2 separate regions of the Homo sapiens genome follow, and region 1 is linked to region 2. The links come from fine-mapping of genetic effects on gene expression. A gene starts in region 2. The other region holds a variant in brackets. All regions are shown on one strand. Distances are between the middles of the regions. Region 1 holds the start of MIR8077 (microRNA 8077). Region 2 holds the start of PAFAH1B3 (platelet activating factor acetylhydrolase 1b catalytic subunit 3).

Region 1 (5,367 bases), 47 kb after region 2:
GCCAACATGGTGAAACCCTGTCTCTACTAAAACTACAAAAATTAGCCGGGCGTGATGTCGGGTGCCTGTAATCCCAGCACTTTGGGAGGCTAAGGTGGGAGGATCACTTGAGGTCAGGAGTTTGAGATCAGCCTGGCCAACATTACGAAATCCCATCTCTACTAAAAATACAAAAATTAGCTGCTCATGGTGATGCGTGCCTGTAGTCCCAGCTACCTGGGAGGCTGAGGGAGGAGTATCTCTTGAGCCTGGGAGGCAGAGGTTACAGTGACCCAAGATCACGCCACTGCATTGCAGCCTGGGCAACAGAGTGAGACTCCATTTTAATTAAAAATAAATAAATAAATAAAAGGCTGGGCACGGTGGCTCACGCCGGTAATCCCAGCACTTTGTGAGGCCAAGGCAGGCGGATTACAAGGTCAGGAGAGCGAGACCGTCCTGGCTAACACAGTGAAGCCCTGTCTCTAATAAAAATACAAAAAAATTAGCTGGGTGTGGTGGTGAGCACCTGTAGTCCCAGCTACTCAGGAGTCTGAAGCAGGAGAATGGCGTGAACCCGAGAGGTGGAGCTTGCAGTCAGCTGAGATCATGTCACTGCACTCCAGCCTGGGTGACAGAGAGAGACTCTGTCTCAAAAAAAAAAAAAAAAAAAAAGAAAAAGAAAAAGAAAAAAAAGTCACTAAATGGACAGTCTCTCTCATTTACCCCACTCCCTACCCCTTAAGTGGTCCAAAATTATCTAGCTCCAGCATGGCTGCAACTTAAGGCCACCATACCTCCCTGGAAGATCCATTTGGGTTTCTTTGATCTTATTCCAGAATTTACCTATTCAGATGCAAGTAAGCATGACATCATATCATTTTTCTTTCTCACTAAACTAATATACTATGAACATTATACGACTGCTTCCTTTTTTTCTTCCTGGCAAGCTTCCCATAACAGAACTTAAGAAACACTCTCATTCTTTTTTTTTTTTTTTTTTTGAGATGGAGTCTCTCTCTATCGCCCAGGCTGGAGTGCAGTGGCAAGCGATTTCAGCTCACTGCAACCCTGCCTCCCGGGCTTAAGTGATCTTCCCACCTTAGCCTCCCAAGTAGCTGGGATTACAAACATGCACCACCATGCCTGGCTGTTTTTTGTATTTTTTTTGTTTGTTTTGAGACGGAGTTTTGCTCTTGTTGCACAGGCTGGAGTGCAATGGCGCAATCTCGGCTCAGTGCAACCTCTGCCTCCCGGGTTTGAACGATTCTCCTGCCTCAGGCTCCCAAGTAGCTGGGATTACAAGTGCACGCTACCACTCCCGGCTAATTTTTTGTATTTAGTAGAGATGGGGTTTCACCATGTTGGTCAGGCTGGTCTTGAACTCCTGACCTCAAGTGATCTGCCCACCTCGGCCTCCCAAAGTGCCCGCCGTGCCCAGCCTTCATTCTTCTTTTTTTTTTTAAGTTGTATAATATTCCATTTACATTTGTAGTTTATTTAAATAGCCTCCCACTGGTGAACACTTGGACTGTTCCACTCTTCTGCTATTACAAAATCACACACCAGGAAAATAAATCTTGCACTTTGTCTGCCACTTTGAATATTAGATCTGGGCTTTGAAGTGCTTAGCTGGAAAGGTGAGGAGTTGGATAAGAAGACACTGAAGTGTCCAGTCCTGGAGTTTTAATGTGAGATGGAAATGGCTAGAGGCCAGGGGTAAAGGTGGGCTCTGGGACCCTGTCGTCTATTGTCTGAATTTAGGTCTTGCCTCTTTTCCCAGAGTGACCTTTGACAAGCCACCTAACCCCTGTCCCTCTGCCTCAGTCTCTCATTTGGTAAAATGGGGAAGAAGGTTGGGTTGACCAGTCTTTTCTGGCTCTGATGTGGCCTGTGAGTCCAGAAAGGGACTCACACATACACCCATCCCTGGTGGCACAGGTCTCAATTGTCCGCAGCACGACCATCACCCTAACACCCAGCGCAGAGACAGATGTGTCCCTGGTCTACCGTGGCTTCATCTACCCAATGCTGCCTGGAGGGCCAGGTGGACCAGGGGCTGAGGACGTGGCCGTGTGGACGCGGGCCCAGCGCCTACACGTCCTGGCCCGGATGGCCCGTGGCCCTGACACGGAGAACATGGTGAGGCCGCCTGGGACATTCAGGGGGTTGTTTATGGTAAATAGGGAGTTAGGGGTGTGGTATAGAGCATCTGTGGTGATTTGAAGGTTCTGGGGAAGGGCTGGGGAGAAATTAGAGGCAGGAGATGGATTTTTTGTGTGTGTGTAAGACAGAGTCTCACTCTGTTGTCCAGGCTGGAGTGCAGTGGCGCGATCTCGGCTCACTGCTACCTTCACCTCCCAGGTTCAAGCAATTCTTCTGCCTCAGCCTCCCACGTAGCTGGGATTACAGATGTGCATCAGCACTCCTGGCTAATTTTTTTGCATTTTAAGTAAAGATGGGTTTTCACCATGTTGGCCAGGCTGGTTTGGAACTCCTGACCTCAGATGATCCGCCACCTTGGCCTCCCAAAGTGCTGGGATTACAGGCGTAAGCCACTGCGCCTGGCTGGGAATGGATCTTTCGTAGAGGAGGGAGGGTGCTGAGGTTTTCAATTGTGAGCAGAATTTGAGGGAAACTTTGAAGCAGGTGAGGAAGGTCTGAGTCAGACTTGAAAGGCCCCTGAAGGCTGGGCATGGAGGTGTACACCTGTAATCCCAGCCCTTTGGGAGGTAGGGGCAGGTGGATTGCCTGAACCCAGAAGTTTGGGACTAGCCTGGGAAACATGGCGAGACATCATCTCTCCAAAAAATACAAAAATTAGCTGGCCATGGTAGCATGCACCTGTAGTCCCAGCTATTTGGGAGGCTGAGGTGGGAGGATCACTTGAACCTGGGAAGTTGAGGCTGCAGTGAGCCATGATCGCATCACTGCACTTCAGCCTGAGTGATGGAATGAGACCCTGTCTCAAGAAAAAAAAAAAAAAAAAAGCCCCTGAGGAGGAGGGTCCCTGGGGGTCTCACCTCTGAGGTTCTCAGGATCTAAGGAGCTCTGAGGCCCTCTTCTTAGGAGGGGGTGGGGTACAGGGTGGGTTTGGAGGTATCAGGGGTCTGAGGAAGGAATGGGAAGGGTTCTGAGGCCCCTGCCTATCACTCACACCTACCCCAGGAGGAGGTGGGGCGCTGGGTGGCTCATCAGGAGAAGGAGACGCGGCGGCTGCAGCGCCCTGGGTCTGCTCGCCTCTTCCCTCTGCCTGGGCGGGACCACAAGTATGCAGTAGAGATCCAGGGCCAGCTCAA[T/C]GGCTCGGCAGGCCCTGGGCACAGCGAGCTAACTCTGCTGTGGGATCGGACTGGTGTGCCAGGAGGCAGCGTGAGTACCCAGGACCTACCTCCAACCCTAGCCGCAGGCCCCAGCCTCAGATCACCTGGGCTTTCTGAACCCCAGGCCACAAACTCTGAAATCCCTAGATTCTGGCCTCGGACTCCTTAACTCTTGGCCTCTGAACTCTGGACCTCCTCTTGAACCCTGTGGCCCCTGACCTCTGCCTATAGACCCTAACCTGATCCCATATTTTGACCCCCATCTTCTGACTCCTCACCCTTGACCCTGCTGACCCTGACCTCTGCCCTCCATACTTTGACCTATAATAATCTCCAGATTCCTCCAGACCTTGGACCTCTTTACTGATTTCCTAAATCCTGACTTCCTATGTGCCTGAGTTCTCAACCTGGGCTCCAAACCCTTACTTTCAGTTAGCGCCAGACTCTGACCCCTGCCCCAGACCTTGACTGCTGCCTTCCTGTGACCCCTTCCCCAGGAGATCTCCTTCTTCTTCCTGGAGCCCTACCGCTCGTCGTCCTGCACCTCCTATTCTTCCTGCCTGGGCTGCTTGGCAGACCAGGGCTGTGGCTGGTGCCTGACCAGTGCCACCTGCCACCTGCGCCAGGGCGGAGCCCATTGCGGGGATGACGGGGCTGGTGGGTCCCTGCTGGTGCTGGTGCCTACCCTCTGCCCACTCTGCGAGGAGCATCGGGACTGCCACGCCTGCACCCAGGTGCCTGTGGGGCCACCAGGGGAGGTCACAAGGTGGAGGGAGCCACAGCAGGCAATGGGCAGTCAAGGGAACCCCTGGTGGGGGGTGTGGGGGAAACAGCAAGGGCTTTTGGCCTTGATCTGCAGAGCCTGGTGGGGAGGGTGAGATGGAGCTGTAGAGAGAGGCACCTGGGGAGTCAGGACTCTCCCTGTTGTAGGGGCCAGAGAATGCAACTCCATCCTTTTCCACTAGCGGGGAGTTTCTCAGCATAGGCACTGGAGCCCAGGAGTAGGCCTTCAGGCCTGCCACCTCCAAGTGATGTCAGGCAGCCCTCGACACCCTGCTTCCTCTTGTTCCCTGGGAGGGTTTGTTTCCTTGTGAGTGGCAAGGGAGCCGTTAAGGGTCCAGGCTCTAAGTCCCTGCTCTGTCTCAAACAGAGTGAGGCTTCCTATTTCTCTCCCCCCACCCCACCACCATCCAGGAGCTCAACAGAAGTCCCAGAATTGCACTTCTGTGGCTCTGGTTGGGCCTTGTACAGGCTCCTGGGCCAATGACTGGAGTTGTGGGGAGGGAATGTGGCCCCTTGCCCACCTCTGGATCCTGAGGATTGAATAAGCCCCACCCGGACCACACAGAAGGGGTGCTATTGCCTAAAGGAGACAGTGGGTGCTGGGCGGGCCGACCCATGGGTGTCTGTGGTCGAAGGGAGGGGTCCAGAGACGCAGGCAGCTGGGGAGGGAGATGGCCTTACAGGGACAGTCTGCAGGGTGGGGCAGGGGGTGGGATGGGCACTGGGAGTCCAAAGGAAAGGGCTGAGTGGGGTTCTGACTCCTCTGCCCAACTGACCCCCAGGACCCCTTCTGTGAGTGGCATCAGAGCACCAGCCGCAAAGGGGACGCGGCATGCAGCCGGCGGGGCCGGGGTCGGGGTGCCCTGAAGAGTCCAGAGGAGTGTCCCCCGCTCTGCAGCCAGTGAGTCAGGCTGGGTGCAGGGAGTGGGTGGGTGGATGTGCCTGGGGATGTGTGCTGGCTGTGGAGTGACCTGGCCCCCTGCTCCCCACCCCAGGCGACTGACCTGTGAGGACTGCCTGGCCAACTCTAGCCAGTGCGCCTGGTGCCAGTCCACCCACACCTGCTTCCTGTTTGCTGCCTACTTGGCCCGGTACCCACACGGGGGCTGTCGAGGCTGGGACGACAGGTATGGTCCCTGGGGCAGGGCTAACAGAGGAAGATTCCCCACCGGCAAGGGGCTGGGGCTCTGACCCCCACCCCTGCCATCCTGCAGTGTACACTCGGAGCCACGGTGCCGGAGCTGCGATGGCTTCCTGACCTGCCATGAGTGTCTGCAGAGCCACG
Region 2 (5,308 bases):
TGACCTCGTGATCCACCTGCCTCGGTCTCCCAAAGTGCTGGGATTACAGGCGTGAGCCACCGTGCCTGGCCCGTTTTTTAGTTTTTCAATACCCCCAAAGTCTTAAGCCATCCCTGGGCAAAAAAGGCTAATTGGTCTCGGAGCATATTCTCAACCACAGCCACTCTGAAGGGTATAGCAAGCTCCAACGTGAGATTCTGCCTAAAAGCCACTGCTCTATGTCAAGCTGCCTAGAACTGTGCCAACTGTGGCTATATCTGAGGGGGTCCCAGACCACTGCCATTCTTCCTTTCCCACTCTCCCAGCCTCTCACCAGCACCACAACCCGGGCCTGGGGCTGTCGCTCATTCACCAGTTGCACAATGGCCTTGATGCCACCAGTCACCTGCTCTGCTGTGTGTCCGTGGTTGTTGGTGCCCACCCAGACCACCACAATCTGTGGAAAAAGAGACATGAAGCAGCGGTGAGGGGGCAGCCAAAAGATGTTTTAGAGCCCCACCCAAGCCCCGCTCACCTTGGGCCGGATGTGTTCCAGCTCCCCATTCTCCAGCCGCCACAGTACATGCTGTGTGCCGTCACCACCAATGCCAAAGTTAAGTGCATGCAGAGGAGAGAAGAGCTCGCGCCAGATCTGTGGGCAAGAAGTGGTGTGGGCAAGAAGTGGTAGGGGCACAAGGGCACTGTCCGCATGGACCATCCCCCTCTGTCCAGGTGTTAACCAAATGCCATTATGGAAGAACCTTACTTCATGGAAGCAGTCTTAAAATTTTACCTGGAGCAAACTCCAGCATGGCTGAACCTCACTTTATAGAAATCTATTAGAGTCTCTCACTTATTTTATTTTATTTTATATTTTTGAGACAGAGTTATTTTATTTTTGAGACAGAGTCTCACTCTGTCACCCAGGCTGGAGTGCACTGGCACTATCTCGGCTCACTGCAACCTCCGCCTCCCTAGTTCAAGTGATTCTCATGTCTCAGCCTCCTGAGTAGCTGGGACTACAGGTGTACGCCACCACGTCCAGCTAATTTTTTGTATTTTTAGTAGAGATGGGGTTTCACCATGTGGGCCAGACTGGTCTCGAACTCCTGACCTCAGGTGATCCACCTGCCTCGGCCTCCCAAAGTGGTGGGATTACAGGCGTGAGCCCATGGTGCCCAGCCTATTTATTTTTTGAGACGGAGTTTTGCTCTTGTTGCCCAGGCTGGAGTGCAGTAGTGCGATCTCGGCTCATTGCAATCTCTGCTTCCCAGGTTCTGGCGATTCTCCTGCCTCAGCCTGCCAAGTAGCTGGGACTATAGGCATGTGCCACCATGCCCAGCTAATTTTTGTATTTTTAGTAGAGACAGGATTTCGCCATGTTGGCCAGGGTGGTCTCGAACTCCTGGCCTCAGGTCATCCGCCTGCCTTGGCCTCCCAAAGTGCTGGGATTACAGGCGTAAGCCACCACACCCTGCCTAGAGTCTCTCACTTTAAACCAAGCCCCAGGCTCTGTTGCTCATGCTGAGGTGGGCGGACTGCTTGAGCCCAGGAGTTCAAGACCAACCTGCGCAACAGGGCAAAACCCCATCTCTACAAAAATTACAAAAATTAGCCAGGTGCATGGTGATGTGCACCTGTAGTCCCAGCTACTCGGAGACTAAGGTGGGAGGATCACTTGAGCCCAGGAGGCAGAGGTTGCAGTGAACAGAGATCATACCACTGCACGCCAGCCTGGGTGACAGAGCAAGACCCTGTCTCAAAAACCAACCAACCAACCAACCAACCAACAAAACAAACCAAGCCCCATAGAAGCAAGACTCACTTCATGAAAATCCAGTCTGCTTGAGCCATGCATTGAATCAATGGCATTACAGTTGAAACTTATTTTGATGAAACCCATTACAGTTGGACATGCTTTGTGGAAAGATATTATTATGATTGAGTCCTCTTTGTGGAGTGCCATTAGAGTTGCCCTTCGCTTCCTGTAAAGTGACTATAGCTTTGTGTAAACCCAACAGGGCTGCGCACTACTTAAAGCAAACAAGAAAGAGCCTCACTTTAGGCAAGCCTATGGCAGGAAAGCCTCATTTTAGGTCTTAGTACATTATACACAAATCCAATCTGATAAAACCAAGGCATACATTTCTTTCTCAATAGAATGTTGCACCTTACACCAAGATTCTCAGAGCCTCGGGCTGCCTGAGGCCAATCTGGGTACTCTCATAATACCTCACCTGGCCTGGGTTCTGGTCCAGATGTGTCAGCATGGACACAGGGCTGGATGGGGCAGGGGGAGAGGGACTGCCCTCACCTCGCACTGGTGCATGAGCTGGACCAAGGAGTCCCCGATGAAGACGACTTCGGGTTCCTTATCTTTGCTGTCAGCCACGAACCGATGGTGCTGCGGGAGCGCGCGAGAGGGAGTCAATGGCATGCACGCTCCAGGGCCCGCCCCGCCCTGCTCCCTTAGGCAGCGCCTCCTCAACTGCCCTCAGTTTCCCAATCAGGTAGTGAGAGTGGCACGAACCAGCCGTTCTCCTGAGCCACCCCCCGCGCCCCCGGACTCCTCAATATCCCAGGTGGGAACGCTCACCAGGGACATCCAGCGCCCGTCGCCCTGTACGTCCTGCACCGGCGTGGGCTTGCTGGCTGGGTTCTCCTCTCCACTCATCTTGGCGCCGCAGCTCCTGCAGGATGAGCGAGTCGGGTCGGCCCGGGAGTGTTCCGAACGGAGCTGGCTCCGCCACGCCCACTCCTACCCCTCGCGGCAACAAAGGACCGTCCCAACGCTAGCACACCCGCGGAGGACGAAGGCCGATACAGGGCGCCGCCTCCTCTCCAGGGACGGAAGCCTTCACTTAGGAGGTAGGTGGAATCAGGAACCTTCGCTTCCCCCACGACGGCCGCACAGTGGGCTCGCCCGGCGCTTCCCGCTCGGGCCGCTGACTCCCAGGCCGCGCACCCGGCACGGGGTGGGGGGAGGGAGAGGCGAGACCATCCAGCTCCCGAGGCGGGGAGGAGGGAGAAACCACCCACCGGTCACGGGGAGGGGCGAACTACCTGAAGAGTCGAGAGTGGGCGGGGAAAATCTAGCCCTCTGTCTAGCAAATGGGAAGAAACCATTTGCTGTACAGAGTGAAATGTGCGGAAGGGACCACCTACTGTTGCGGGGGGGGGGGTGACCCATTCACGTGGTGGGGGGAGGGGAGCGAGTGGACGAGTCCATTCTTATATTCCCTTGAAGGGGTGGCTCGAATGCACCTGGCTGGGGGGGACGCTCCTATTTTCTACTGATGTGGGGGACAGAAAAGGAAGATGACAAAATGTGAAAATTCGAGGCTCCCTTCTAAGGAGCCACTCTAAGGCCGCGCCAGGGCTTTAGTGAGCCTATCTACTCGTGGGCTTCCCCTACTCAAAACACCGTGGGTGTGTGTGTGTGTGTGTGTGTGTGTGTGTGTGTGTGTGTGTTGAAATCTAAAGTACATATCTTTGCATTCAAGACATCACAGGACCCCTACTCAAAACACCGTGTGTGTGTGCGCGCGCGTGGCATAACATATAAACTACATATCTTTGCATTCAAGACACCATAGGACCTGCTTGGAGGGTAGAAGAAGGTGCAGAAAGAGAAAGGAAATTAGAGACGCCTCCAGGGCTCAGGTCCAGTCTGGCGTCCCTCCGGCAGATCATCTTGCAGATCTGCAGCCTCTACACTCTCTCTAAACCCACAGGCCAACTGGGTATGTCTGAGCTCTGAAACCTACATCCATAGCCAAGGCCACCTAGGGTCGCGCCTCTCCCCCAACGCTGCCCCAAATTAATCTCAGACCTCAGTGTCTTCTCAGATCTCCCTCTTCTCTGGGACCAGGTGGGGGGCTCACTCCCTGCTAAACGTCCTGGTCATGTTCTTGTAGCCTCACTCCAGGTGGGACCTTCCCATGTATTCATTCCTTCGAGGTGGATTGATACTGAGACAGAGATGAGTGTTATTCATTGTGTTTATGTTTTCAATCCACTTTCCTGGAACTGGGCCGGGCACACAGTGGTTATTCCACAAGTGCTTGCTGAATGAGTAGTAAATGAGTGGGTCAGCTCCTGACCTTGTCCCAATGTGTTTAGGGAGACAGATCCAGACACAGAGGTGTAGGGGTGTCAAAGTTGTGTTTGAGGGAGAGACAGGGACCTCTGGGGAGGAAGAGGAGAAGGACTCTGAGGACTATGGGTTTCCTAGGAGTAGTATCTCAGCTGGGTCTGAAAGATAATGAAGAATGGGCAAGCAGAAAGAAAAGACACAGGTAATCACTTTCTTATTAGGTTTGGGGAATATCGTGGAATAGCTTGATTTTAAAGTCTGAGGGAGGCCAGCATGGAGGCTCATGCCTGTAATCCCAGCACTTTGGGAGGCTGACATGGTCGGATCACTTGAGGTCAACCAGCCTGGCCAACATGGCGAAACCACGTGTCTACTAAATATACAAAAAAAAAAAAAAAATTAGCTAGGCATGGCAGCACACGCCCGTAGTCCCAGCTACTTGGGAAGGCTGAGGCAGGACAATTGCTTGAGTCTGGGAGGCAGAGGTTGCAGTGAGCTGAGATCGCGCCACTGCAGCCCAGCCTGGGCAACAGTGGCCCAGCTTGGGTGACACAGCGAGACTCTGTCTTAATTACAAAAATAAACAAACAAATAAAGTCTGAGGGAGCCAGGTGCAGTGATGCATGCCTGTAGTCCCAGCTACTGGGGAGGCTGAGGTGCGAGGATCGCTTGAACCCAGAAGTTTGAGACCAGCCTGGGTAACACAGTGAGACCCTGTCTAAAAAAAAAAAAAAAAAAAGGCTGGGCGCGGTGGCTCACGCCTGTAATCCCAGCACTTTGGGAGGCCGAGGTGGGCAGATCACGAGGTCAGGATCGAGACCATCCTGGCTAACACGGTGAAACCCCGTCTCTACTAAAAATACAAAAAATTAGCGGGGCGTGGTGGCAGGCGCCTGTTGTCCCAGCTACTTGGGAGGCTGAGGCAGGAGAATAGCGTGAACCTGGGAGGCAGAGCTTGCAGTGAGCCGAGATGGCACCAGTGCACTTCAGCCTGGGAGACAGAGCGAGACGCCGTCTCAAAAAAAAAAAAAAAAAAAAAAAGGGCAAGTGCCTGTAGTCCCAGTTAGTTGGGAGGCTGAGGCAGGAGGATAGCTTGAGCCTGGGAGATGAGGTGGCAGTGGCCCATGATGGTGTCACTGCACTCCAGGTTGGGTGACAGAGTGAGTCCCTGTCTCCAAAAAAGAAGTCATAATCAGCTAGGCACGGTGGCTCACTCCTATAATCCCAGCACTT

The links. PIP is the estimated chance that this variant, and not a neighbour inherited with it, causes the effect. A credible set is the group of variants that fine-mapping cannot tell apart.
Region 1: its variant is the best candidate, but not a certain one, in a credible set for the expression of PAFAH1B3 in whole blood (TOPMed, PIP 0.70).

The regions. Positions count from the first base shown.
Region 1 is chr19:42,346,352-42,351,718 of GRCh38, forward strand. It overlaps MEGF8 (multiple EGF like domains 8), which reads left to right. Exons shown (of 42, transcript NM_001271938.2): 13 at 1,921-2,121; 14 at 3,148-3,348; 15 at 3,797-4,033; 16 at 4,865-4,983; 17 at 5,078-5,209; 18 at 5,297-5,367. MIR8077 (microRNA 8077) reads left to right here and starts at 4,780; the gene lies at 4,780-4,854. RefSeq lists an enhancer at 3,452-3,953. The variant T/C (reference allele first, on the strand shown) is at 3,279.
Region 2 is chr19:42,299,657-42,304,964 of GRCh38, forward strand. It overlaps PAFAH1B3 (platelet activating factor acetylhydrolase 1b catalytic subunit 3), which reads right to left and starts at 2,968. Exons shown (of 5, transcript NM_002573.4): 1 at 2,576-2,968; 2 at 2,294-2,383; 3 at 515-631; 4 at 314-436. The coding sequence starts at 2,653. PRR19 (proline rich 19) reads left to right here and starts at 2,476. Exons shown (of 3, transcript NM_199285.3): 1 at 2,476-2,847. RefSeq lists enhancers at 2,443-2,492, 2,573-2,702, 2,655-3,309 and a silencer at 2,863-3,082.